Homo sapiens: one gene and its partners. The protein of the gene in region 4 interacts with the protein of the main gene of each other region in a biochemical or structural test. Each region holds a gene or a part of one and is shown on either strand. Other genes may lie near its edges. The genes, in order: S100A2, CSE1L, CHEK2 and KPNA2.

Region 1 (7,394 bases), on a different chromosome or scaffold from region 4:
AATTGGCCAGGCATGGTGACAATACTCCTGTAGTTCCAACTACTTGGGAGGATTGCTTGAGCCCAGGAGTTCGAGATTACAGTGAGCTATGATCCAGCCTGGGTGACAGAGTGAGATCTTGTCCCCCCACCACAAAAAAAAAAAAAAAAAAAGGAGTCCGGGCACGGTGGCTCACGCCTGTAAGCCCAGCACTTTCAGAGGCCGAGGAGGGCAGATCACCTGAGGTCAGGAGTTCGAGACCAGCCTGACCAATATGATGAAACCCCGTCTCTACTAAAAATACAAAAATCACTTTGGGAAGCCGAGGCAGGTAGATCACGAGGTCAGGAGTTCGAGACCAGCCTGGCCAATATGGTGAAACCCTGTCTCTACTAAAAATACAAAAATTAGCTGGGCGTAGTGGGATGCGCCTGTAGTCCCAGCTACTCAGGAGGCTGAGACAGGAGAATTGCTTGACCCCTGGAGGCAGAGGTTGCAGTGAGCCGAGATCGTGCCATTGCACTCCAGCCTGGGCAACAAGAGGGAAACTCCATCTCAAAAAAAAAAAAAAGAAAAGAAAAGAGAGAGAGAGAACGTGCCAGTGCTGTGTGATCTTGGGACAATCACTTTTCCCTTCTGGGCTCTGGTTTCTCAAGTCTCCAATGACAGGATTAAACAGATGGACTCGGAAGGCCCTCACAGCACATGGTTCTCTGGAATGCTGCAGGAAACAGCCATTAATTAAGCACTCCCACTCGGGCCTCATTTCCACTCCAGTGGAGCCATGAAGCTAAAGTGGGGAGGGGGCTGGGCCCCACCCTGGCACCTGCATCGACAGGCACCCGGAACTGGGGGAGAGATTTAACCTGCACCCCCACACTCACACCAGGACCTCCCCCACAGGCCTGTGCCACTCACCCCCACAAAGCTGGGCAGCTCCTTGTGCAGAAGTTCCTTCATTTCCCCCTTACTCAGCTTGAACTTGTCGCCCTCTTGGCAGGAGTACTTGTGGAAGGTAGTGACCAGCACAGCCAGCGCCTGCTCCAGAGAACTGCACATCATGGATCTGTGGCTGCAGAGGTGCCAGGTGATGGGTACACTGCTGAGGCTCTTGGGGCCTTAGCTCAGCCTGTAGGATCCACTTCTGCCCTATGCCCCCAAGCCACCTCACAAAACCCCTCTCTGAATGGGAAGGCAGGGGCTGCATCTCCCCCTCAGACTGTGGTTCCCTGAGGCCGGAGGCGATACCTCCATCTCACCCTGAGGGCAGACGCTAAAGCTTCCCTTGTGTCTGGGAGTCACCAAGCCTCCTCTGATGGCACTTGGGACACCCCCCTGAGGGCAGGGCTCCCCATTTTAGTGTCTGCCAGAAGGGAAATGACAGGGTGACCAGAGTCCCATTTTGATGGCATCTGCGCAGGCTCTGGGGAGCAGGGCCACATGCACCGGCTGGCAGATGGGGGCTCCTGTGCAGTCTGGCAGGAGCCATGGCTACAGCCTAGGAGCAGGAAGCTCCCTGAAGGAGTCGTTTCCCTCCTTAGACTCGGGACTCCTGAAGCCAGAGGCATCTCTCTCTGCCATCTAACTGGAAGCTCCCTTGGGCAGGAGTGTTTCCTCTCTCAGACTAGGAGCTCCCAGAGGGTGGGGAATGTGTCTCCCCTCACCCTGAAGGCCCCTGAGCCTCTAGGCAGACAGGGGCATGGATAGGGTGGGGGCAACTTAACATTCTCTCCACCAGGAAGGATCCTGTTGGAATTAGAATTAAAGATATGAAATGTTCATTGCCTTGGGATCAGGATGGGACAGACCTCAGCGGCAAGGCCTCTGAGAATACTCAGACCAGCCTGGAAAGGTTAGGCAGGTTTCAGGGTGAGGCCAGAGGAGCTATGCCAGAGGCAGGGCATGCCCTGGGCCCATCATGCCAGCCCTGCCTTCACCGAGGCAGGGGGCAGAGCTTTGCTGCTTGGGGCCATGACCCAGGCAGAGTCTTGAGACCCCTGCCTCTTGCACCTTAGTCCTGCTAGAATCCAGGACTTTGCAAAAAAAAAAAAAAATCTCAGGATTCTTTTTGCAGCAACGCCCACATGCACACCTCCTGCTCCTAGGCCTAGACCCCCAAAGAAGGGCCCCTAGACTGAGATATCCAGGGGAGGGCCTCAGAGCAACCCCTGCACTGAGACCTCACAGAGGAACCTGGAGAAAAACCCTTCAGTCGGCCGGGCGCGGTGGCTTACTCCTGTAATCCCAGCACTTTGGGAGGCCGAGATGGGTGGATCACGAGATCAGGAGATCGAGACCATCCTGGCTAACATGGTGAAACCCCATCTCTACTAAAAATACAAAAAAATTAGCCGGGCATGGTGGTGGGCGCCTGCAGTCCCAGCTACTCGGGAGGCTGAGGCAGGAGAATGGCGTGAACCTGGGAGGGGGAGTTTGCAGTGAGCTGAGATCACACCACTGTACTCCAGCCTGGGCGACAGAGCGAGACTCCATCTCAAAAAAAAAAAAAAAAAAAAAAAACCCTTCAGTCAACACTTCAGCACTTCACAGAGAGTTCTTCCAAGGGGGAAGGCCCAGAGAGGCCCAGGTTGATCCCACCAGGGAAGCTGGAATGAGAGAACTGTGGAGACAAAGACAGAGACCCACGGGGATCCTCCCCACCCTGCCCTCAGCAGGACAGAGGTACTCACCAGACCAGGTGGCAGAGACAGACCCAGGAAGGAGAGCAAGGCAGCCAGGCTCCCAGGGTGAGGATTTATATGTGGGCCCCACTGGCCCCCAACTTGGCATTTTAAGGAAACCAAACCTGCCTCAACCTGATCCCACCAAACCCTGGCCTCTTGCCATTCCCACTCATTCCCTCCCAGCCCCCTCCCTCCCAGAGAGTGCCAGCTCCACCACCAGCTGGGGGAGGGCTCTAGGCCAGGTCAAGGGCAGCCCCTGAGCCCACCCAGGCCACAGTGGGAAGTGGGAGGTGTCGTGGGGACTGGGCATCCTGGACCGGGGTGAGGGGAGGCAACCCCTGCTCTGGGGCCTGGAGACTGGTGCCAGGCCTCATTCTCATGACATGCCTGTGAGTCACAGCCCACTCCTGTGTGAGAGGCTGTGAGCACACGCTGAGACTTCATGGTCCAGTGCTCGTGTACATACATGCGCCCGTGTGTGTGAGAGAGAAGCAACCTGGGGCCACCCTTAGGAAGCTGGGGGCCAGAGGAGGCAGCTGGGGGACATCAGGAGGAGAAGGACAGGACTGACTTCAGGGCATGGATGAAGTGGAGTGACTTTTAATGGCCAGCACCAGAATACCTCTTAATGAGGTAATGAGGTAACTAAGTGTGCTTAGAAATACCTGGGAAGGTCCCTCTGTGTAGGAAGGTGTCTGGAAGGATGGGGAAGCAGTGAGAAATGGGGTTGCTCTACACACAGCCGCAGTTGGGCTGGGCCACAGTCTGTGGGGAGCATAAGGAAGTCCCGAGTAGTTAAAGGCTGAACAGGAAAACTTTGGCCTCCTCTTCTCCAGCTTGAGGGCTGGGTGGGTGGGTAGGGGTACATCCCTACCCAAGGCTGAAAACACCAGCTGGACAGCTTCCCAAGCCAGAATCCAGGCCTGAAGCACAGCCCTCAGCCACAGCCCTCTCTCACTGCCCCCCACACACATGTCCTCCCCAGACCCGGAGAAAGGCAAACACTGTGGCCATTCAGAGCCCAGCCCAAGGGAGGGCTGCCCCCTCCCAGGGCCCCTTCCTCCTTGGCCCTTTGTCTATCCCGGCCCGTCTGGGCATCAGGGCACCGCCCTTCCTGTGGCCCCAGCTCCCCTCCCTGCTCCAGCTGTCGAGTAGCTTCTTCCCCTCCCCCAGCCCCTCTACCTCAGCCCTAAGTGACTCACCCGAGGTTCCAGGCCCAGATGCCCAGGCAGTGACTCAGCGGCACACCCTCCTCCCCCAGGGCCAGGGCAGCAGCAGTCCCAGAGCAGTAGGTGGAAGCCCCAGCCCAGCCTGGCAGGGAAAGCACTGGCACAGAGACCCCAAACAGGCCCTGCCAGGAGGAGCTTTGGATAATGACATGGCAGGAGGATCAGACTGAGAACAGGCTGGTCCCTTCCTAGCGGTCACCGTGTGACTTGGGGGCCAGCCTGAGCAGTGTACATGAAGTCAGGCCTTGGGGCCCCCAGTGTCCTCTTCTACACCTTGGCACAGCCACCGAGTGTCCCTTGCTCCCCTCAGTACTTGAACCCCTCATGCTACTTGTCTTCCCATCGAGGCCTACTTCAAGTAGAACTCGGAATAAAAACCCTTCACACTGAGGGTGAGGGACAAGGGAGCGCAATGCATCGATTTTCACAGCCATTCTTTCCTTTTAACTAAGGGCCTCCACAGGGCCTTCCCTGCTCAGAAACTGCAGTGCATCCCCATGGCTGTCCCTTAAAGCCAGGCGGTATGTTCTCACTCATAAGTGGGAGTTGAACAATGAGAACATATGGACACAGGGAAGGGAACACCACATACCAGGGCCTGTGGGCAGTTGCGGGGAGAAGGATGGGGGCAAGGGGAGGGAGAGCATTAGGACTAATACCTGATGCATGCGGGGCTTAAAACCTAGATGATGGGTTGATAGGTGCAGCAAACCACCATGGCACATGTATACCTATGTAACAAACCACATTCTGCACATGTATGCCAGAACTTAAAGTAAAAATAAAATAAAATTAAATTAAAATTAAAAATTTTTAAAAAGCCTGGCAGTGAGGCGCTCCAGACTCGGCCTGCTGCTGCGTGTCCCTTAAACACACCGGCACATGCAACTAGTGTGGCCAAGACCCTCGGCTTGCGCTGACCCCTCTGTTCAGAACGTGCCCACACATGCCCATGCCCTCTATCCTGCTGAAATCCAACCCCCCCTTCAAAGGCCACTGCAGGGAGCCTTCCCAGGGCCCAACCGGATTCAGTGTCTACCTGTTCTGTCCTGTACAAAGCGCCCCTTTTGCCCTTTTCGTGTGTACTTAGAGAATTCTGATTTTGACTGAATCACCTGTGTACTTGTTTTCTCTCAGCCTCACCCCCACATGGTGAGCTCACCGGTCTTACTCATTTCTGCATGAGGTAAGGGTCTCGCCCACACCAGGTGCCAACCAGTGCTTACGGCTACCACATGGCAACAGGGGTCACTGGAGGAGTGCTTAGGAGCAAGGGAGTCCTTCTCACCCCGTGAAATCACACCACTGACTATGCTACGAAATAATCACCTCTCCTCTGGATCCCAAGAGTGGAACCGAGACAACGGGTCGGAAAAGAGCTTCAGAGAGCTACAAATCCCTGAGGAGTGACAGCAGGAAACTGCGGCTCCCAGGACCCAGTGAGGGAGTTGAGCAAACCCCCCAGCGGGCAGAGACGGAGACAGGCAGGCAGACGAAGAAGACAAAGAGTCAGTCAGATGGAAAAGCCAGGGAGAAAAACAGAGACAGCAGCAGAGCCGCGGGTCACTAGGGTCAGCTCCTGAAGGCCTGTCCTTAATCAGGTGTCTCTGTCTCAGGAACTGAGGCTGCGACTGCGCCCATCAAATGGCCATATACCTGAGACTGGTGATAATCGTATTCATTTGCCACTAACTTGCTGCGTAACCTTGGGCAACTCCCTCCCCCACGGCAGGGCAGGAGAGTTGTACGGAATGGCCCCTAGAGTCCGATCCCAATCCCACTCTCACATTCTCCAGCTGTCTACAAAGGCAGAGTAGTCAAGACACAAGCAGGCCCTGCGGACATCCAAAGCAGTGACTCTGCCCCGGCCCAGCCTCAGGAAGCTGGGTCCTCACATTCCGTCCACCCCATCTCCGGGCTCCAGGTGCCAGAAATTTTCCACCAGCGGCCCCGCGGGATTTTGCCCAGCTGCTTCGTGCCCTCTGGTGGCTAAGGCGTGTCATTGCAGTGCCGGCCTCCTGTCATCCTCCCTTTCTTGTCCGCCAGACCCTCTGGCGCCCTGCTTACGACTCAAACAGGAGACAGTGCTGATTCATTTCCAAGCGGCCTTCCTACACCCACACCTGCTTCACATAGATGAGGTTTCCCGGACAGTCCCTGCCCAGAAGCCCAGGTGGATGTCTGAGACGGCAGCCAGATACCTGGAAGCCATTTTAAAAGCCTAGGGATATGGGTACTCGGGAGATAGGAGGCGGAAAGACCACTTGAGCCTAGGAGTTTGAGGCTGCAGTGAGCCATGATCGTGCCACTGCACTCCAGCCTGGACGACAGAGCAAGACCCTGTCTCAATCAATCAATCAATGCAAGCCTAGAGATAAGGGCAGGAGAAAACCAGGGGACAGAAGTGAGGGATTGGCCACTGCCAAGTTCTGCCCACCCACCCCCTTTCCCCAGGCCGTTCAGGGGAAAGAGAAATGGCCTCATTGTGGGGGCCACAGGTTTAGTTTAAGTCCTGACATTGCCTCTGGCTTACTGTGTGACTGTCGACCTTGGTTGAGTGGTGCCACGAACCTGAGCTTAAACGTTTTCAGCAGAAGGACCCCCTTTATTATGCCCCGCCCCACAAAATAAGTTCTGAGGTATTCTGTCTTAGCAAAATGCATTAAATAATTTATTTCCCCTGTTGTACTAATTGGATCCATAAGTGTCTCCCGGCAGCATGACCAGCATGCGAGGACCCACGTTATCACATTGGGTTCAGGTCATCCTGGATTTGTCACTCACAATGGGCGTGTGCATATCCTTTGCTGGGGGGTGCAGACTGAAATTTTGAAGCACTCGCTGTGCGTCAGGTGCTCTCCGTACATTACCCCATTTAATTCACACAACAATCCCAGGAGTTGGAATAAGATGACCCCACTTCACAGAGGAGAACACTGAGACTCAAAGTCTGCCAAATTCACACAATTAGTAAGGGGTGGGGAGGCATGACGAACACAGGTGGTCACAACGTTAAACCTTTCCTAGAAGCTCCAATTATTCCCCGATAACCCTGAGAGCCCTAACATTTCATTTCCATTCAGACCAGCCTCAGTCTCTCTGCCCATCCTCTCTCCACCCCACACTCAGCCTATCTGTCTCATTTCTCAACCTCAGCAGGCGCCAGAAGCCCATCTTCTCCCCATCTCTGATTCTGGCATCTTTTCCTCTTGCCTTCAAATGCCCTGTGGACTGGATTCTTTTTAATTTTTGTTTACTTACTTATTTGAGACATAGACTCACTGTCGCCAAGGCTGGAGTACAGTGGCACCATCACAGCTCACTGCAGCCTCATGTGATCCTCCCACATTAACCTCCTCAGTAACTGGGGCTATAGGTGTGCGCCACTGTGCGCATCTTTTTGCATCTTTTGTGGTGATGGAGTTTTGCCATCTTGCCCAGACGGGTCTTGAACTCTTGAGCTCAAGCAATCCTCCTGCCTCGGCCTCCCAAAGTGCTGGGA
Region 2 (7,464 bases), on a different chromosome or scaffold from region 4:
CTGCAACCTCTGCCTCCTGGGTTCAAGCAATTCTCCTGCCTCAGCCTCCCAAATAGCTGGGATTATAGGCACACAGTACCACGCCCGGCTAATTTTCATATTTTTAGTAGAGATGGGGTTTCACCATGTTGATCAGGCTAGTCTCAAACGTGTAGATTTTTATAACATATAAACATATATTTAAACAGAAATAAGCCAGGTGCAGTGGCTCACGCCTGTAATCCCAGCATTTTGGGAGGCCAAGGTGGGCAGATCACCTGAGGTCAGGTCAAGACCAGCCTGGCCAACATGGTGAAACCATCTCTACTAAAAATACAAAAATTAGCTGAGTGTGGTAGTGGGCGCCTGTAGTCCCAGCTACTTGGGAGGCTGAGGCAGGAGAATTGCTTGAACCTGGGAGGCGGAGGTTGTAGTAAGCCAAAATCGCGCCACTGTACTGTACAGCCTGGGCAACAGAGTGAGATTCCATCTCAAAAAAAAAAAAAAAAATTAAAGTGCCTCCATTTTAAAAAAGATAAGAAACAACAATCAGATACTTCTCAATGTTTAGCTGTTAACACTCTTCTGCATCTCAGTTGGGCTTTAAAAGCGAGATTGAGACATAAGACTTGTTCTTTCCCAGCATAACCAGATGTGTCCACGCCCTTCTGGATCCAAATAAAATGTAAAGTTATCTTCCTCAAGGAGCACACCATAGACAATGTGTCTTTTCAGAATGTCTTTCCTTACATTAGACAGATTGGGGTTTTTTTTGTTTTTGCGCGGGGGGACAGAATCTTGCTTTGTCGCCCAGGCTGGAGTGCAGTGGTGCGACCTCAGCTCACTGCAACCTCTACCTCCCAGGTTCAAGTGATTCTCCTGCCTCAGCCTCCCAAGTAGCTGGGATTACAGGCACCCACCACCACACCCGGCTAATTTTTGTATTTTTAGTAGAGATGGGGTTTCACAATGTTGGCCAGACTGGTCTCGAACTCCTGACCTCGGGTGACCCATCCTGTCCTCCCAAAGTGTTGGGATTACAGGCGTGAGCCACCATGCCCAACCTAGACAGATTGTTTTATAAGGGTTTAGAAAGAAAGGAAACTACATGAATGAGTACTTAGTCTCCTGCTCCTTGAAGTGGATGAATTGTTTTCTTTGGTTTCCAACACAGTCTGTTAAGAGTTGTAGCACGCCCCAAGAGTATGTGCATGTAGTGGAGCTGGGATGGGGAGGATTCCCAAGGGAATCTTTAGCTGTCACCCATGAACCATGCAGAGTGGAGAAGGACACTCAGCCTTTCTGTGGCTCTCACCTGCATGATTATTCTGGTGGCTGCAAAGGGCGATAGGCAGTAGGAGGAGACACCCCGTGACACCAAGAGCTGTGTCCAGACATGATCGTCTTGGCACAGCTTGAGGGTTTTCTACAGAAACTGGTAGAGATGCTAGACAGACACAAGATGCCAGCCAGCCTCCTTTGCGATTGGCTCTTAGAGGTGGAAAATGGTAAAGTCATCAGGCTCATTCTCCCTAGGACTAGAGGAACATGTTAATTATATTAAAGTAGATTAGTGGGCCGGGTGTGGTGGCTCACGCTTGTAATCCCAGCACTTTGGGAGGCCGAGGCGGGCGGATCATGAGGTCAGGAGATCAAGACCATCCTGGCTAACACGGTGAAACCCTGTCTCTACTAAGAATACAAAAAATTAGCTGGGCATGGTGGCGGGCGCCTGTAGTCCCAGCTGCTCGGGAGGCTGAGGCAGGAAAATGGCGTGAACCCAGGAGGTGGAGTTTGCAGTGAGCCGAGATCGCACCACTGCACTCCAGCTTGGGCAACAGTGTGAGACTCCGTCTCAAAAAAAAAAAAAAATGCAGATTAGAACGATTAAAATGATTACTGGTGATTACTGGTACTATTGCTGCAATAGTAAAAATACATCTTTTTCACCAATGTCTTTGTTTTTTTTTAAAATGTTCCACCGTCTTCTGACCATCATGGTTTATTTTTATTTTTATTTTATTTATTTATTTATTTTTTTAAGACACAGTCTCGCTGTCACCCAGGCTGGAGTGCAGTGGCTCGATCTCGGCTCACTGCAGCCTCTGCCTCCCAGGTTCAAGCGATTCTCCTGCCTCAGCCTCCTGAGTAGCTGGGACTACAGGCGCATGCCACCACATCTGGCTAATTTTTGTATTTTTGTAGAGACAGGGTTTTACCATGTTGGCCAGGATGGTCTCGATCTCCTGACCTCATGATCCGCCTGCCTCAGCCTTCCAAAGTGCTGGGATTACAGGCATGAGCCACCGTGCCCGGCCTCACCAATGTCTTTCACTCATGTATCTTTCTCCATGGACTTCACTTATTTATATATGGCATTTCATTCAACATGCAACAAACATTTATTAAGCAGCTACTGTGTGCCTAGTGCTGGGGGTACAGCTGTGAATACCATCAATATGGGGCTAGATGTGGTGGCTCACACCTGTAATCCCGGGGCTTTTTTTTTTTTTGAGATGGAGTTTCGCTCTTGTTGCCCAGGCTGGAGTGCAATGGCAAGATCTCAGCTCACCGCAACCTCTGCCTCCCGGGTTCAAACGACTCTCCTGCCTCAGCCTCCCAAGTAGCTGGGATTGCAGACGTGCGCCACCACACCCGGCTAATTTTGTATTTTTAGTAGAGACGGGGTTTCTCCATGTTGGTCAGGTCTCAAACTCCCAATCTCAGGTGATCTGCCTGCCTCGGTCTCCCAAATCACTGGGATTACCGGCGTGAGCCACCATGCCCAGCCCTATCCCAGTGCTTTAGGAGGCGGAGGTGGGAGGATCACTTGAGGCCAGGAGTTTGCCTGGGCAACATAGTGAGAGCTCATCTCTACAAAAAAATTCAAAATTAGCCAGGTGTGGTGGCAGGTGCCTGTAGTCCTAGCTACTCAGGAGGCTGAGGTGGGAGGATTGCTTTAGCCTAGGAGGTCGAGGTTGCAATGAGCTATGATTGTGCCATTGCACTGCAGCCTGGGTGACAGAGCAAGACCCTGCCTCTTAAAAGAAAAAAAAAAAAAAAAAAAAAGCCCTGGCCAGGCGTGGTGGCTCATGCCTGTAATCCCAGCACTTTGGGAGGCCAAGGCTGGCGGATCACAAGGTCAGGAGTTCAAGATCAGCCTGGCCAATATGGTGAAACCCCGTGTCTACTAAAAATACAAAAATCAGCGGGGCATGGTGGCGGGCACCTGTAGTCCCAGTAACTTGGGGGGCTGAGTCAGGAAAATTGCTTGAACCTGGGAGGCAGAGGTTGCAGTGAGCTGTGACAGCACCACTGCACTCCAGCCCTCCAGCCTGGGCGACAGAGCAAGACTCTGTCTTTAAAAAAAAAAAAAAAAAAGAAAAGCCCTTGCTGTATAGAATCCCTTAGGTTATGGATGGGGAGGAGGGCAGGGGTTTAGGAGGGGAGAAGCGGAAGGAGGAACAAAATAAAGAAGAGACAATTAGTTGGAGAGTGATAAATACCATAATGATATCATGGAACTAGGCTTACCAGATCAAACACTGGGCACCCAGTTCAATGTGAATTTCAGATAAGCAATGCATGATTTTTAAGTATAAATATGTCCTACACAGTATTTATACTAGAAAATTATAAATTTTTTTCTAAAATTTACATTGACCTGGGCAGCCTGCATTTTATTTGCTAAACCTGGCAACCCTAATTTGTGTGCTGGGTGGTGGTGAGTGGGCAATTTCAGATAGGCCTCTTTTGTGGAGGTGACATTTGAGCTGGAACCTAAATGTAAAGAAGGAGCCAATCATTCAGGAATCTAGAACATCCCAGCACAGGGAACAGCAAGTATAAATGCTCTAAAGTGGAAATAAGCTTGGAGCTTAGAGGAACAGGAAGAAGGTGGGGTGGCGGAGCTGAGTGAGGGTGAGGAGAGGAGGGAAGCGGAAGGTGATGAGGGCAGGCAGGCTGGCAGGGGCCAGATCCCATATGGTTTGTGGGCTGTAATAAGAGTACCAAAACTTACATACCAGGCCAGGCGCGGTGGCTCACGCCTGGAATCCCAGCATTTTGGGAGGCCAAGGTGTGCGGATCACTTGAGGCCAGGAGTTCGAGACCTGTCTGGCCGTGTCTCCCTCTAAAATAGAAGCTCCAAGAGGGGCAGGAAGTTCTCTTCCGTCTTAGACCCTATGTGCACGACCTTGGATCGATCAACATTGAACACCTCCTACGTGCCAAGCCCTGACATCAAAATGGGTCAGAAGCCAGCAGCCGCTCGCTGAATCTGTGTTCCTCTTTGGAAAACGAGAACCGTGAAGCCTGCTGGCATGGTCAGAGCCAAAGAGCATTGTCACTTGTGAGATCAGCGCAGAAACAGAGCGGGGCCCCGATTGGCCCTTCGAACTTGGGTGGGGCCAGAGCATTCCTGGCCCCGCCCCCTGCAGCGGGCCGCTCGCTCATGCGCTCTGGCCTCAGGCTCGCTGTCGCGCCATTTTGCCGGGGTTTGAATGTGAGGCGGAGCGGCGGCAGGAGCGGGTAGTGCCAGCTACGGTCCGCGGCTGGGGTTCCCTCCTCCGTTTCTGTATCCCCACGAGGTGAGGCGCGGGGCGTGCACGGCCTACCAGAGTGGCTCTTGGGGCCCAGCTGAGGAAGGGATGAGGCGCTCCCGGTACTAACGAGCGCTAGGGAGTGAGAACCGCGCCTCTGGGCGAGAGCGGAATGTGGGCCCGGGGTTCGGGTGGTGCGCTCAGGCAAGGTCTTCGGCTTCCCTAGGGAGCGCTTGCCGCGCCTCGCGGCATCCTAGGTCTCTGGCCCAGGTGCGGCGACCCCAGGGCCTGTGAGGGCTGAGGGCAACTGAGGCGCGGCCTAACGCGAGCCTGCGGATTGCCCGCCCTTTCCTCTCCATCACGGCGCTGATTGGCTGCGCCGCCGCCTCTCCGCTCGGGAAGGCCGCTCCTTATTGGTCGCGCTCGCATGTCCATTCTCTGCGACGGTGGCTGCTAGCCGCGCGAGCTGAGTGTGCGGCGGCGAGGCCTGCCCGGGCGGGGACTGCGGGCGCGTGGAGCTGCGGCTGCCTCGCGTCGTCCCTTGCCCTAACTCTAGTGAAGCCCCCGAACTCACCCTTCTCTAACCTCTGTACTTGTATCCCTGACTGTAAAACGGGCATCGTGATCTCACTTTGCTGAATTGTTTGTGAGAATTCTAGTCGGTACACCCGGGACATAGAAATCCCCTGTAACGCGGGTTGGGGGAGGGTTCCCTCGTTTTGGGAGAAACGCTGTGCTGTGGTGGTTCGGAGCATAGACTTTGGAATTAGATCGCCTGGGTTCATTCCAGACGTAGCCTCTCGTTAGGGGTGTAACTTGAGGCTGGTCACCTCATCTCACTGAGCCTCCATTTCCTTAGCTGCAAAATGGGGTTAATAACAGAATCTACCTCGGAAAGTGGCTTTGAGGATGCGCTGAGTTATTTACCGTGGTTTACAAAGGTTCCCTGGGAGCTGACGGTTGTTTATTCATCTCTCCCACCCATCTTTCTCCTTAGCCAGTGTGGCTTTCTGTTTCTTCCATATTCCAGGGTTATTCCGATTTAAAATTATTTGCACATGCCTTTTGTTTGCTGGGGAAGTACCAACATTTTTGCAAGGCAGGCCGCCTCTCCCAAGTTTCCCTCACCTTAGGCCTCCCCTAACCAACCTCTTCTTTTGTTTTCTTTTTCTTTTTCTTTTCTCTTTTCTTTTTTTTTTTTTTTTTTTTTTTTTTTTGAGAGAGAGAGTCTCGCTCTGCCTCCCAGGCTGGAGTGCAGTGGCGCGATCTCGACTCACTGCAACCTCCGCCTCCCGGATTCAAGCGATTCTCCTGCCTCAGCCTCCCGAATAGCTGAGACTACAGGTCTGAGACTACACGCCACCACACCCGGCTAATTTTTGTATTTTTATTAGAGACGGGGTTTCACCATGTTGATCAGGCTGTCTAATCAACCTGTCTAGGACCTTTCTCCCATGGCTCTCCATCAACATCACCTGGTTTTAGTTACTTCATAGCATTTACTAACACTTACTTATTGCTTACTTGTTATCTTTCTCAACTGCTAGAATGTAAGCTGTTTGAGAGCAAGGACCTTGTCTGTCTTGCTTACTTCTCTCTCCCTGGTGGGTGCCATCCCACCTGTGCTTGCCACATGGTAGATGCACAAGTATTATTCTTCCTTGGAGGCACAGAAGGGGACCCTTTAGTCTTGGATTCCACCAATTGCTCTTTTTCTCACCTTGGGCCCACATAGTCATATCTTTGGCCTTTCTCTGTGTGTGTCTCTCTCTTTTTTTTTTTTTTTTTTGACATGCTTTCAGAGGATCCTAATGGACCTCGTCTCTCCGCTCCTACAACCCTTTATCTTTCACTTCTTACCATCAGTGCAAGGGAAGTCTCTCTCCCCTTCTGATTACTTCTGCTGGTTGGGGTCTGGGACAGGATTGGATGGATGCAAGAGCAGTGCTCTAGTTTTGGAATTAATTTGTTTCTTTATTCATTTAATAACTTTATTGAGCATCCACTTAATCTCTGGGAATATAGTGAAAAAACAAAAATGGACAAGGTCCCTTCCCTTGAGGACCATGTATTCTCGTGGGCGAAAGAAAAAACATTAGATAATTTCAGATAGTGACAGAATTATGTGACAGGTGAAGAAGGCTTTTCTGAGGAGGTGACATTTGGGTAGAGACCAGCCATTAAAAGGTGAGGGGCAGAACATTCCAGGTAGAGGGAATAGAAGGCTCAAGGCTCAAGGACAGGAACCGGCTTGGAATATTGAAATATTTAAGGAATATCTTAGGTTCCTAGAGTGTTACATGAAGAAGGGAGAAATATCCAGGACCCGGATCATAGAAGGCTTTGTAGGCAATGTAAGGAGTTTGGATTTGATTCTAAGTGGTATATTCCTATGGTTAGAAAGCAGAGGGTAGGTTGAGGTGTTGGGATATGTTCTTCATGTGTGGGTGCCAGATAGTTTTCATTCATTGGATCTCTTTCCCTCTTCCCAAATGTAAGGCCTCGGGAATGGTTCTCTAATGTGTTGAGGACATATCTAAGAAAAAGGCAGACATCTTGGATCAGCTTATGTCACAGATGTCTGTGAGATGGCTTTGGAAAACAAAGCTTTTATTCCAGAAATCTCCACCTGTAATTGAGGGCCTGTGGGAAGATGCTAGACTTAGGTCTGGCCATTCATTCAACAAGAAGAACTTGGAAATTTAGATGTCTGCCATAACTGATTTATTGTGATGCTTTTTTAAGTTTCTTAATTGTGTATTGGTAGAGATTTCCAAAGATAGTTACGTGGAGAAAGAAAAGTATCACCCCCTCATTTAAAGGTGATAAAAATGAATTCTTATCTTCTCCCTCCCTTTTTTTTTTGGAGACACCATCTCACTGTGTTGCCTGGGCTGACCTGGGCTCAGTCTATCCTCCTACCTCAGCCTCCCGAGTAGCTAGG
Region 3 (7,316 bases), on a different chromosome or scaffold from region 4:
AGCTTCTGCACAGCCAAGGAAACAATCAACAAAGTGAAGAGACAACCCACAGAATGGGAAAAAACATTTCCAAACTAGCCATCTGACAAGGGATGAATAACCAGAATATATAAGGAGATGAAACTCAACTGCAGAAAGACAAATAATCCAATTTAAGAAATGGGCAAGCCAGGCACGGTGCCTCACATCTGTAATCCCAGCACTTTGGGAGGCCAAGGTGGGTGAATCATCTGAGGTCAGGAGTTCAAGACCAGCCTGGTCAACATGGCAAAACCACATCTCTACTAAAAATACAAAAAATTAGCTGGGCATGGTGGCCCGTGCCTGTAATCCCAGCTACTTGGTAGGCTGAGACACGAGAATCACTTGAACTCAGGAGACGGAGACGGAGGTTGCAGTGAGCCGAGATCGCACCACTGCACTCGAGGCTAGGTGACAGAGTGAGATTCTGTCTCAAAAAAAAGAAATGGGCAAAAGATCCGAAAAGACATTTCTCGAAAGAAGACATACAAATGGCCAACAGGTATATTAAAAAAATGCTCAACATCACTGATCACTGGAGAAATATAAATCAAAACTACAGTGAGGCCCGGGTGCAGTGGCTCATGCCTGTAATCCCAGCACTTTGGGAGGCGGAGGCGGGCAGATCACTTGGGGTCAGGAGTTTGAGACCAGCCTGGCCAACATGGTGAAACCTGTCTCCACTAAAAATATGAAAATTAGCTGGGCATGGTGGCAGGCGTCTATAATCCCAGCTACTTGGGAGGCTGAGGCAGGAGAATCTCTTGAACCCGGGAGGCAGAGGAGGCAGTGAGCCAAAATCGCGCCACTGCATTCCAGCCTGGGCGACAGAGTAAGACTCTGTCTCAAACAAACAAACAAACAAAAAAACCCACAATGAGATACCATCTCACCCAAGTTAAAATGGTTTGTATAAAAGATAGGCAAAACAGATGCTGGAAAGAATGTGCAGAAAGGGGAACTGTATAGAGTGCTCTTGACATAAGTAATTTTATCTTAGAAAAAGGCTCTATCTTATATTTTAAAAGGCATTATGCCAACAGGGACCAGATGTTTGTCTAATTAATAAAGACTGTACTGGCCATGTACAGTGGCTCACGCCTGTAATCTCAGCACTTTGGGAGGCCAAGGCGGGCGGATCACAAGGTCAGGAGATGGAGACCATCCTGGTCGACATGGTGAAACCCCAACTCTACTAAAAATACGAAACTTAGCTGGGCATGGTGGCGCGTGCCTGTAGTCCCAGCTACTCGGGAGGCTGAGGCAGGCGAATCGCTTGAACCAGGGAGTCGGAGGTTGCAGTGAGCCGAGATCGCACCACTGCACTCCAGCCTGGTGACAAAGCGAGACTCTGTCTCAAAAAAAACACTGTACTAAACCAGATAAGGATATAAATATGTACACGCTTTTGTTATTAGTCCTCACAAGAAAATTCTTTGGTCATAAGAGCAGGACTTTATTAGGTCAAAATGGCTGTCCTAACAGACACCATCTTGCTGTCACTCATGATTAACACCCAGTATCCGCCATCAAAGGCTCTGCCCGCATCAAAAACTCTTCCTTACAAGACACTGACACCCCAGATAAAGCCAAAACACTCTCTTTGTCCACATTGCTCTCCTTGGACTGGTTTGATAACCACTTTCCCTATCCCCTTTTCTCCGAATGTTAAATGTTACTTTAATGTAAGATTTTTAATCTATAACATTTACATATTAAATAAATATACTATTGTGTACGGTTTACAATACTGACTGACTTGTGGAATGGCTTGAGCCTGTGTGCCCATGGCTCTGACCACCAAGTAAACAGGGAGTACTACGGAAAATTGCTTCCTTGGGAACTCCATATAGCTCGTGGCTTTTACAATTAAAATAAAACATCAATAAGTCTGATCTTGTGGAAAGACACAAATGTGCATGGACCTGGTTATGTCTGACCTTGCACTGTTCACATACACCACTGGTGGGAATGCAAATTAGTATAGCCACTATAGAGAAGAGTATTGTGATTCCTCAAAAAATTGAAAATAGGCCGGGCGCGGTGGCTCACACCTGTAATCCCAGCACTTTGGGAGGCCAAGGCAGGTGGATCACCTGAGGTCAGGAGTTCGGGATCAGCCTGGCCAACATGGTGAAACCTCGTCTCTACTAAAAATACTAGCCGGGCATGGTGGCGGGTACCTATAATCCCAGATACTTAGGAGGCTGAGGCAGGAGAATCGCTTGAACCCAGGAGGCAGAAGTTGCAGTGAGCCCAGATCGCGCCACTGCACTCCAGCCTGGCAACAGAGAGAGACTCCGTCTCAAAAAAAAAAAAAAAAAAAAAAAAGGTACAGATGGTAATCATATATGTATACTTTATATCAAAAATAAATAATTTTTTTTAAAAATTCCAGAGGTCTTTCAAGTGAAACACAATATTTTTTTCAAGCAGAAAACCTAAGTCCGAAGGAGGACTGATGCCCTCCTACCCACTTCTGGCCACCCTATCCCATACATTTACTTAGGGACTTATTTAGGGACACGCAGAACATCCTCCTACACAGCTCAGTGCGTTTCCAGTCCCTGCAGCGCCCAGTAGCTAAGACTGGCTTCTCTATAAGTATTTTATAGATTGAACCTAAAGAATGGCAACGATTTCTAACATCTATAGAATTTTTACGAAGTCACTTCGCTCTGATATTGAAGAATACAACGCTGTTCTTCTTATCCTGTATGTTCAGGCCTGTTTCAGCTTGCAAGTAATACGGGAAGTGAACTTCACCTCGAGGATGATCTACTGAAAAGGAAGAGAGTCGCCCACACACTCCCCCTTCAGCTCAAAACTACAGACAAAGCGAAGCTCAGGAGACTCCGTTCGCACAAAACGCTTAAGATGGGATTCGAACCACCAAACACCCAACAGAAGTTCCCCATATGACTCACCGCGTGAGCCCACCTGGAGCCGCACACTCTCCGCAGCCTCAGCCAGCAGAGTGGCGCTAAACCTGCAGATACAAACTCCACCCTCAGCCAATCAAAACCCCCTCCCCTGCCGCCGGACCAATGAGGAGCAGCAGATGTGGCCGTCAGGCGCCGCCTCAATGCCTCCTGGGAGTTGTAGTTTAGAAGGGAGAGCGGAACTTAGAACCCGGGTTCCCCTCGGGTGATCCCGCCCCCTCGACTCCCCAGCCAATCAGCAACATTAGTCTGGTTAGACGCTCTCTTTGCTTTTCCCCACGAGTGACCACGGCTAGATAGGCCGCCGGCCAGATGTGGCGGGGGAGAGCCGGGGCTTTGCTCCGGGTGTGGGGGTTTTGGCCGACAGGGGTTCCCAGAAGGAGACCGCTAAGCTGCGATGCTGCGTCGCAGGCGGGAAGCAATTATCCCCGCTGTTGGAACTGCGGCGGCCCATGGGGCCCCGGGCGGGAGGACAGGTTCTTCTGCCCACAGTGCCGAGCGCTGCAGGCACCTGACCCCACTCGAGACTACTTCAGCCTTATGGACTGGTACGAGCGACGGTTTCGGGAAACGGGCCCGGGCGAGAGACACGTCGAGGTCTGGCCTGCGAGAGGGGAGGACGGATCTGGCTGGCGGAAGAGAAGGCGGGACTGATGGGGGGGCGGAGGTCTAGAGAGCAGGCGTGAGAGAAGTGTCTTGATTTCTCAGGAGGAAATTGAGAGGCGGGGACTGAGGGAAGCAACGTTGAGGTGTGGAGAAGGGAGACGAACGGGACTGGAGGGGCGGGCGCTGAAGTTAGAGGAAATAGGGGGGCCGAGGCTAGAGGGGAGGGAGATTTGAGGGGCGGTACCTACGGGAAAGGGAAGGAGAAGTCGAGGGGCGGAACTTGAGGAAAGGGTACTTGAGGGGCAGGGCCTGGGAGACTGGAAGACTTGAATGAATAGGGTGAGTAAGGTTTAAAGTTGGGTTGATGTATTTAAGAAAGGACTGCAGAAGTGTGATCCGAGATTAGGGAGTAAAGCATGAAAAGCTTAATATTGTGGGCGAGGCCTGAGGGAAAAGTGAGAATTGGAGGGAGAGGGTCCAATAAATGGTTTTTCCCCCTGAGACTGAGGTTCTTGGAGAGACGGGGCAGTGTGGATAGAGCTGAACTGGTAAGGAAATAGGACAGACTCTGGGAGTAGAATGTGAAAGGGGCTGAATTAAAATAAACCGGGAGAGACAGGGATGAAGGGACCTGGGCCGTGGAAAAGTTAGGGTGGTATTAAAGAAAACATGATTCAGTCACACTTGTTCAAGCACCAGAAAGACTTTCTTCAAGACCATCTTGTAGAGGGGCCACTGCAATAGGGTCTTGCAGTTGGGGAGAGAGATTGGTCTCAACTCCAAAAAGGGCATGGGCAGAAGGAAATTTGTAGCCAAGGAGCAGAGTAAACGGGATTCTGGCTAAGCCGACCTAACGGGATTCTTGCTGAAGACAGGCCAGGCTGCTTAGACACCACCTGGGGGATAGTAGAGGATGAAGAATCTGATCAGAGATCTAGGATGATCAAAAATATGAGGATCGAGGATTCTAGCTAAACTGACTTGGCAAGATTATTTGCCAAAACTGTATTTTACAAGAAAGCATACATCTGGGCCTAGGAGAAGGTTCAGAAATCTGACTAAAGTTTGGCCAGGCAAAGAATCTTTGTCTGTGTAATTTAGGAATGTCCCTTTTCCTTAACTATGGGATCTTCCCCACCAGTCACTGAACATGTATGAGGGGCTACAGTAACGCTGATCTTTAAGTTCCTCAGGCATCCCCATCTTGCTCCCACCTCGAGGTCCTTGCTCTTGCAATTCTACCTGGACGTCTCTTTCCTCTGATCTTTGATTACTCATCATCATTCAGGTTTCAGCTGAGTGTCATCTCTTTGTCCACTACATCTGCTACACTCTCTGACTCTGTTCTGTGTCCCTTCATAGGACTTACCACTTTTTGAAATTAACTGCTTATATGTTATTGCATCTTCCCCATAAGAGCAAGAACCAGGCTCATGGTAGATAAACCTTTAAATATTTGTTGTATAAATTTAATCTCCCAATTTCCTTCCAGCAACCGTTCCTTCAGAGTTGATACAGCGAAGCTCCAGCACAGGTACCAGCAACTGCAGCGTCTTGTCCACCCAGATTTCTTCAGCCAGAGGTCTCAGGTAGCTTATTGGCCAACCCCAATAATCCCCAAATATGTGTGCACACTGGGTGGCAGTAGCCTTGTGGTTATGTGATTATCAGGGACTGAGCTGGAAAATCAGCTGTGTCTGCCCCATGGCAGTCTGACCCCAGCCTGTCAGACCCAGAGCTGCCATTCACTCACAGCTTTTGTCTGACTTCCCAGATAACTTAAAACCTATCAGCTGAATATAAAGACACCTCATCCCACACCAGCTCTACTTAACCACTTCCTTAGGTGCCTGCCCATTAGAATATTATAAAACTTTGTGGGCCTGGCACAGTGACTCACGCCTGTAATCCCAACACTTTGGGAGGCCGAGGCAGGCAGATCACTTGAAGTCAGGAGTTCAAGACCAGCCTGGCCAACAGGGTGAAACCCTGTCTCTACTAAAAATATAAAAATTAGCCCAGTGCAGTGACACATGCTTGTAGTCCCAGCTTCTTGGGAGGCTAAGGCAGGAGGATCACTTGAACGTGGGAGGTGGAGGTTGCAGTGAGCTGAGTTCGCGCCACTGCACACTCCAGCCTGGATGACTCAACGTCAAAACAAAAACAAAAACAAAAAAACTTTGTGATTTGGATGGTAATAGTACTATCTTCATCTCCACTAACAGACTGAAAAGGACTTCTCAGAGAAGCATTCGACCCTGGTGAATGATGCCTATAAGACCCTCCTGGCCCCCCTGAGCAGAGGACTGTACCTTGTAAGGTGATTTCCCAACACTTCTGTGTATGACGTCCTGATGCCCATTATGGCGTAGGACAGCCACGTCCCCTTTATTCAGCAGAAGAGTGCTTGAGGTCAGGCATGGTGGCTCACACCTGTAATCCCAGAACTTTCAGAGGCTGAGGTGGTCAGATCACTTCAGCCCAGGAGTTCAAGACCATCCTGGGCAACATGATGACACCCCATTTCTACAAAAAATACAAAAATTAGCTGGGCATGTTGGCATACACCTGTAGTCCCAGCTACTCTGGAAGCTGAAGCAGGAGGATCACTTGAGCCTGAGAGGTCAAGGCTGCAGTGAGCTGTGATTGTACTACTGCACCCTCTCAAAAAAAAAAAAAAAAAGTCCAGGGACCCAATAGTATTTAGCCTCAGAGCACAAGTATAATTTTCTCTGTGAATATTACTTGCCTCAACTGCATTTTTTAAATTGTGATTTTCTAGCTTTTTTCTGTGAATTTCAAGGATTTGATGATGGTAGCTTTTAGTTAAGAGTCATTTTCTGTTTTGTTTTTTTTTCCTCTCCAGAGTATCTTAAGAGGCCAGGCATGGTGGCTCACGCCTGTAATCCCAGCACTTTGGGAGGCCGAGGCGGGTGGATCACGAGGTCAGGAGTTCAAGACCAGCCTGGTCAAGATGGTGAAACCCCGCCTCTACCAAAAATACAAAAAAATTAGCCGGGCATGGTGGCGGGTGCCTGTAATCCCAGCTACTCGGGAGGCTGAGGCAGAGAATTGCTTCCCCAGGAGGCAGAGGTTGCAGTGAGCTGAGATCACACCACTGCACTCCAGCCTGGGCGACAGAGTGAGACTTCATCTCAAAAAAAAAAAAGTATCTTACAATCTAGAAAATTTTATAATTGAATAGAATCTTTACAAACATCTAGTTCAACCTCTGAGTGGAGGAATGACTACCCCAAGATCACACCAAGGTCACATAGTTTTGGGTAGCATGAGTGGAAATCCCATTCCAGCATTTCTGTTTCAGTCCAAGCTTTTGATACCCCTTAGTCTTTCATTATCGGGACAGTTGCAGTTTTCTCTATTAGTGGTATTATTTCCTAATGGATGAGTAGGATTTACATTACTCTGCCCATAGCTTCTTCAACTTATTTTTCTTGCTTTCTACCCCAATAGCTAAAGCTCCATGGAATAGAGATTCCTGAAAGGACAGATTATGAAATGGACAGGCAATTCCTCATAGAAATAATGGAAATCAATGAAAAACTCGCAGAAGCTGAAAGTGAAGCTGCCATGAAAGAGATTGAATCCATTGTCAAAGGTGAAAGATAAAATAGCACTGAATGTATTTCATTGCTGTTATGAACACTTGTCCAAGGATTAGTGAAAAATGAACGTAGAGTATATAATGGCCCGGGTGCAGTGGCTCACGCCTATAATCCCAGCACT
Region 4 (6,985 bases):
GGACTACAGGCATATACCAACATGCTTGGCTAATTTTTTATTTTTATTTATTTATTTTTTTAGACAGAGTGTCACTCTGTTGCTCAAGCTGGAGTGCAGTGGCACAATCTCAGCTCACTGCAACCTCTGCCCCTGCGTTCGAGCGATTCTTGTGCCTCAGCCTCCCGAGTAGCTGGGACTACAGGCACGAGCCACCGCGCTTGGCTAATTTTTGTATTTTCAGTAGAGACAGGGTTTTACCATGTTGGCTGGGCTGGTCTTGAACTCCTGACCTCAAGTGACCCACCTGCCTCGGCCTCCCAAAGTGTTGGGATTACAGGCGTTAGCCACTGCTCCCAGCCTCTGCTAATTTTTTTTTTTTTTTTAATTTTTGTAGAGATGGTGGTTTGGAGGAGGGCATCTCGCTATGTTGCCCAGGCTGGTGAATGGATATTAAGAACTGAATGTTTGCATCCCCCTCAAAAATTCATATGTTGAAAACCTAACTCCCAGTATGATAGTATTTGGAAATGGGGCCTCTGGGAGGTTGAGATGAATTCATGAGGGTGGGGCCCTCATGATGAGATTAGTGTCCTTATAAAAAGAGCCATCAGGCCGGGCGCAGTGGCTCATGCCTGTAATCCAAGCACTTTGGGAGGCTGAGGTGGGTGGATCATGAGGTCAGGAGTTCAAGACCAGCCTGGCCAACATGGTGAAACCCCATCTCTACTAAAAATACAAAAATGAGCCAGGTGTGGTGGCATGCACTTGTAATCCCAGTTACTTGGGAGGCTGAGGCAGGAAAATCACTTGAAACCAGGAAGCAGAGGTTGCAGTGAGCTGAGATCGCGCCATTGCACTCCAGCCTGGGTGACAGGGCGAGACTCCATCTAAAAAAAAAAAAAAAAGAAGAGACACCAGAGAGCTTTCACTCTCCCTTCTCTGTGCTAAAATGAAGAGATCATGCTAGCACACAATTAGGCGATGGTCATCTGGACGCCAAAGAGGGGGGCCCTTCCTGGAAACTGACCACTCTGGCACCCTTATTTCAGATTTCGTGATCCAGAAATGTGAGAAAAATAAATGTTTGTTATCTAAGCCTCCCAGCCTGTAGTACTTTGTTATGGTAACCTAAGCGGACTATGCTAGTGGACTAACACATCAGCTAAAACTTGGTCATAAATGATAGGACTTTTTTTTTTTTTTTTGAGACGGCGTCTTGCATTGTCGCCTGGGCTGTAGTGCAGTGGCACCATCTCAGCTTACTGCAACCTCTACCTCCCAGGTGTAAGTGATGCTTGTATCTTAGCCTCCTGAGTAGCTGGGACCACAGGTGTGTGTTACCACACCTGCCTAATTTTTTATATTTTTTAGTAGAGACAGGGTTTTGCCATGTTGGACAGGCTAGTCTTTTTTTTTGAAATGGAGTTTCGCTCTTGTTGTCCAGGCTGGAGTGCAATGGTGTGATCTCGGCTCACTGCAACCTCTGCCTCCCAGATTCAAGCAATTCTCCTGCCTCAGCCTCCCAAGTAGCTGGGGTTACAGGTGCTTGCCACCACGCCCAGCTAATTTTTTGTATGTTTTAGTAGAGACAGGGTTTCCCTTTGTTGGCCAGGCTGGTCTTGAACTCCTGACCTCAGGTGGTCTGCCCACCTCAGCCTCCCAAAGTGCTAGGATTACAGGTGTGAGCCACTGTGCCCGACGATATCGTATCTTTCAAAGGCAATTTTGGGCATTATACTTCTGTTTCAGGTTGTTTTTAGGTGCAAGTACAGAATAGTGGTTCAGAACACAGATCCTGGAACCAGACTGCTTATGGCTGAATCCTGTCTTTGCCATTTACTGGCTGTGTGACCCTGGAACAAGTTACATAAACACTTGTGATTCAGTGCTCTCTTTTGTGAAATAGAGCAAATAACAGTACTACCTCACAGTTGTGAAGATCAAGTGTATTAATATATGGTAAACACTCAGAACACTTCTGGGCACATAGTAGTCAGTATTTTCAAGCAAAAGAAACTCAACTTGGCTTGGTATGGTGGTCAGGCCTATAATTCCAGCACTTTGGGAGGCTGAGGTGGGTGGATTGCTTGAGCTCAGGACTTCGAGACCAGCTTGGGCAAAATAGTGAAACCCTGTCTTTACAAAAAATGCAAAAATTAGCTGGACGTGGTGGTGTGTACCTATAGTCCCAGCTATTTGGGAGGCTGAGGTGGGAGGATGGCTTCAGCCCAGGAGGCAGAGGTCGCAGTGAGCTGAGATCGTGCCACTCCACTCCAGCCTGGGCGACAGAGCTAGACCCTGTCTCAAAGAAAAGAAAAAAAAGAAAAAAAAAAAGAGAAGAAACTCAACTTGACAATACAAAAGAAATGTGTATCGGATCTCCTACCTGCAAACCTTCAGAGATAGAGCAGGTCAGACCTCTCAAGGTTTCCCTACAGTTTTCTTATTCAGATTTCTAGGACTCACATCCCTTAGTTCAGAAGAACAGAGGCTGCTTTCCTACCTCCAACCAGTAAACAAAAGGCAGAGGCTGTCCAACTGGATGAATTTAGGTCATGTGCCTGCCCCTGAACCATTCTCAGTAGCTGAGAGAATGCCACACAGTGATTGGTTTAGGGGTGAATTCCTTCCACATTCTTGCATTTAGGGGGATGGGATTATGCTGATTAAGAGTAGGTCCAACCCTTTATGAACTCTGGCTTTACGATGAATGAGGCTGGCATTAATGCCTGCAAAAATGGACAAACTTGCTGTTTGAATTTATTTATAGTAAGAAATAAACCATGAAAACTTTTCTAAAATGTAATCTTTTAGAACACAAAAAAATTGCAGAAACAAAAATGGCCCAGAATCCTGATGCTCTGTTGACCATCTTTGTTTTGTTTGTTCGTTTGAGCATATGGCAAAAAATGCAAAATTCAGAAATGTGTAATGAGCATAGAATGTTACTATAACAATTGAAAAAACTTGAACACACACTACATACTAAACAACAGCATGAAATTTCAGTTTTTCTGAATTTGATGACTGCAGTGTGGTTATATAAGAGAATGTCTTTTCTTAGGAGAGACACCGTGAAACAGAGGAAAAAGGACATGATTCTGAAACTTTCTCTTAAAGTAACATATTAAAATCACACATATGTACACGCGTGCATATGTATACATATATATGTATAGAGAAAGCAATAGCAAATGTGGCAAAATGTTAAGATTTGGCAAATCTGGATAAAGATTTGCAATTCTGCTGCATTTGAAATTATTTAAAAATAAAAAACTTGAGTTTTTGGAGAAACAGGCATAAGAAACCTTTTGTTTCCATATTTGCGGCTTCTATACAGTCTTTTATGATGCAATTAAAAAAAAACTAAACTAAAAAATATAACACAAATCTTCCCTCCCATAGTAGCCAGAAACCCCCGCCGAGTACTTTGGGTGTCATAATAGGAAAAAAATGCAAAGCAATATGTTTTTCTATAAAGATTACTTATTTACTAATTAGAATTTTTTTATTTTCATGAAGATCAACAACAAAGTTTTTAAAATAATGACTTAGAGAATCATTTTGTGGTATTTGTTTAAGGCTGTCGCCCAGGAAAACGCCCAAGGACCATGCACGCTTCAACCCTATGGAAACACGAACGGCCCAGGGAACCGCCCCTTCGCGCTGCTTGACGGGATCTGGAGTCCTCCCGCTCCGCCCCGCCAGGCGCTCAGGGACCGCCCGGCCGCTCCCTCACCGCCCGGCCGCTCCCTCACCGCCCGGCCGCTCCCTCACCGCCCGGCCGCTCCCTCACCGCCCGGCCGCTCCCTCATCTCGCGATGCCATCCTCTTTTTTTTTTTTTCTTTCCCCCCTCCCACTCGCCCCCAAGCCCTATGACTCCCTCCCCTCCCAACGTGTTTTTCAAATCCACCAATGGGCACACAGCTTAGGCTCGAACCAGCCAATCGGAATGCGGAGTCACCGGGAAATTTAAATCGCGCCGGCCGGCTGCACGAGCCACACGGTCTTTGAGCTGAGTCGAGGTGGACCCTTTGAACGCAGTCGCCCTACAGCCGCTGATTCCCCCCGCATCGCCTCCCGTGGAAGCCCAGGCCCGCTTCGCAGGTACAGACTCAGGCGGCGGCCCGGCCCGAGCGCTAACGGCTTGCCCGTGGGCGGCGTTCGCCTTTTGGGTTGGGGGAGGGAGGCCCCGGGTCCACGCCGAGCCTGGCTCTGCCTCCCGCGTTGACTAGGCCTCGGGGGCGACGTTCATTGACCAGGCGGCTGAGTTTCGCGGGGTCTGCGGGTTTAGGGCGCCGACGCTCTGCAAACGGCAGCGGAGGCCTTAACGCGTCGCGGCCGGGAGAATCGGAGCGAGCCAGGCTTGAGGGCGAATGTCCCGGGAGGACTTGTGGCGGCCCTGGTTTCGCCTCCTCCTTTCTCGTTGCATCTTCCCCGGCGTGGGGGCAGGGGCTGGGGGTGGCAGTTGGGAGCACCGTCTCTGACACCTAGGCCCCGGGGGTGGCTCTGCCACCAAGTCGTAGGCGAGCGTAATGAAAGCAAAGATAGCAAATTGTAAGGAGGGCTTTGACTTTTGTCATCTTCTGAATGACGCACAGCTGATGTCATCCTAATTAAGCGCATTCACTCCTAGTCTCTGGAAATGCAAATCAAATATGCGAGATGCGGCACTGCATTTTTAATGTTGACCATAATGTAATGATGAAGCAAATTTTTATTTAATTTTCGAGTCTGCACCTATTTTGGCCAAGTAAAGACAGTAAAATAGGGAGAGCCTCCTGAGGATCTGAATTTATTGCCCTGGCACATAATTTTTAGCTGTAAGTTGACTTGGTTCCCCTACTTTGTCTTGAATTAACTATTAGGGACTCTGGAGTATCGAACTAGGCTGTCAGAAACGGTGGATACATGTGGCTAGTCCAAATTGAAATACGCTGTAAGCTTAAAGTACACAAAAGATTTCAAAGATGGAGTATGGAAAAAGAATGTAGAAGATGTCAGTTATTTTATATATTGATAACACGTTGAAATACTATTTGGATATGTTGGGTTAAGTAAAATACATTATTAAAATTAGTTTCACTTGTTTCTTTTCTCCTTTTTAAAAATATGGCTACTAGGAAGTTTCAATTTATATAGCTTGCATTCTATTTCTGATGGAGAGCCCTCTCCAGGAAGTCTCAGCCCTTTAGAGGGAAGGGGGACACTTCCCCTTTGGGTAAAGCTATTTCATAGTGCCGAAAACATGATGATCCCCCCTCTAGTATACAGGTGTGGATTCAGTAGATGCTTGATAATTCAGTTCTTATTTGGTACTATTATTGACAAAGGAAAATGATAAAGGAAATATTTTTCTCTTCCCCCATCTTTTAGCTTTCTCCCTTTGTCTCATAACCATGTCCACCAACGAGAATGCTAATACACCAGCTGCCCGTCTTCACAGATTCAAGAACAAGGGAAAAGACAGTACAGTGAGTACCTTCTGTTGCTTTCCTGTGGTGGTATTTAAATGGGAAGACATTTGGAAAGGGGTGAAAACTGAGGTATTTAAAAAAAAAATGCCCTCACTTAGCAACAAAAACTGGTGTGATAGGTGAAACGGCATGTTATCTTTTCTCAAGGAAATGAGGCGTCGCAGAATAGAGGTCAATGTGGAGCTGAGGAAAGCTAAGAAGGATGACCAGATGCTGAAGAGGAGAAATGTAAGCTCATTTCCTGATGATGCTACTTCTCCGCTGCAGGAAAACCGCAACAACCAGGTAAAAAATGTATTTTAGTTTATGAGTTACGTGAAATCCAGAAAATCAGTAGGGACTTTTCTTAGAAATTCAAGTAAACTTAACATTTCTAGTCTTAACGGTTTTAACTATCTGTGAACATCTTTTTCTCTGTTTGCAATTAGTAATTGTCTTCTTTCCTGCCTTCTGTAATCCACTGAAGCTGATTTAGGATCTTCCTTTAGCTCTGACCTTCCTTCAGACTTCCCTGCATTTCTAGCTACTAGCTGGGTACCTTGGCCTGACCAGTGTGTCCAGAGCCAGCCAGTTTCTGGTTTATTTCTTCTTTTTTTTTTTTTTCCCCCGAGATGGAGTCTTGCTCTGTTGCTCAGGCTGGAGTGCAGCAGCACAATCGGCTCACTGCAACCTCTGCCTCATGGGTTCAAGCAATTCTCCTGCCACAGCCTCCTGAGTAGCTGGGATTATGGGTGCGCATCACCACGCTTGGCTAGTTTTTGTATTTTTTTGTTTTTGTTTCTTTGAGACAGAGTTTTGCTCTGTCGCCCAGGCTAGCGTGCAGTGGTGCGATCTCCGCTCACTGCAAGCTCCATCTCCCGGGTTCACGCCATTCTCCTGCCTCAGCCTCCTAAGTAGCTGGGACTACAGGCGCCCGCACCCTGTCTGGCTAATTTTTTGTATTTTTAGTAGAGACGGTGTTTCAACATGTTAGCCAGGATGGTCTCGATCTCCTGACCTCGTGATCCACCCGCCTCAGCCTCCCAAAGTGCTGGGATTACAGGCGTGAGCCACTGCCCGGCCTGTTTTTGTATTTTTAGTAGAGGCGGGGTTTCACCATGTTGGCCAGGCTAGTCTTGAACTCATGACCTCGTGATATGCCTGCCTTGGTCTCCAGAAGTGCTGGGATTACAAGCGTGAGCCACCAGGCCCTTCCCGTTTTTGGTTTATTTCTGCCTTTTTTGGTATTCTCTATGTTTTTGTATTTGTCACCAGCTTTGTTCAGGACTTTCCTTCTGAAATATTTACAGTAGCCTCCTAATTTATCATATCCTTCTTTATGCCATATACTATTTTCCTGAAATTTTTCCTGAAGTACTGCTTTAGACCTGTGTTTTCGCTCCTTAAAATCCATACTCCAAATTGCTTGAACCTGGGAGGTGGAGGTTGCAGTGAGCCAAGATCATGCCATTGCACTCCAGCCTGTGCAACAAGAGTGAAACTCCGTCTCAAGGAAAAAAATAAAAATAAAATAAATCCATACTCC

Evidence for each region.
Region 1: the proteins of KPNA2 (region 4) and S100A2 form a complex in vitro, tested with the Homo sapiens proteins (one study listed by IntAct).
Region 2: the proteins of KPNA2 (region 4) and CSE1L form a complex in vitro, tested with the Homo sapiens proteins (2 studies listed by BioGRID).
Region 3: the proteins of KPNA2 (region 4) and CHEK2 form a complex in vitro, tested with the Homo sapiens proteins (one study listed by BioGRID).

What each region holds. Positions count from the first base shown.
Region 1 is NC_000001.11:153,562,837-153,570,230, forward strand, and holds the start of S100A2 (protein S100-A2), read right to left. Parts: upstream 3,009-7,394; 5' UTR 2,670-3,008; intron 1,052-2,669; 5' UTR 1,042-1,051; coding exon 898-1,041; intron 701-897; coding exon of another isoform or gene 579-700; intron 1-578. UniProt on the Homo sapiens protein: May function as calcium sensor and modulator, contributing to cellular calcium signaling. May function by interacting with other proteins, such as TPR-containing proteins, and indirectly play a role in many physiological processes.
Region 2 is NC_000020.11:49,041,856-49,049,319, forward strand, and holds the start of CSE1L (exportin-2), read left to right. Parts: upstream 1-4,456; 5' UTR 4,457-4,568; intron 4,569-7,464. UniProt on the Homo sapiens protein: Export receptor for importin-alpha. Mediates importin-alpha re-export from the nucleus to the cytoplasm after import substrates (cargos) have been released into the nucleoplasm.
Region 3 is NC_000022.11:28,738,821-28,746,136, forward strand, and holds the start of CHEK2 (serine/threonine-protein kinase Chk2), read right to left. Parts: upstream 3,001-7,316; 5' UTR 2,949-3,000; intron 7-2,948; exon of another isoform or gene 1-6. Other genes in the region: iron-sulfur cluster co-chaperone protein HscB isoform 1 precursor, read left to right, coding at 3,276-3,511, 5,062-5,158, 5,795-5,884, 7,044-7,188. UniProt on the Homo sapiens protein: Serine/threonine-protein kinase which is required for checkpoint-mediated cell cycle arrest, activation of DNA repair and apoptosis in response to the presence of DNA double-strand breaks.
Region 4 is NC_000017.11:68,031,751-68,038,735, forward strand, and holds the start of KPNA2 (importin subunit alpha-1), read left to right. Parts: upstream 1-3,984; 5' UTR 3,985-4,090; exon of another isoform or gene 4,091-4,806; intron 4,807-5,359; 5' UTR 5,360-5,382; coding exon 5,383-5,457; intron 5,458-5,607; coding exon 5,608-5,745; intron 5,746-6,985.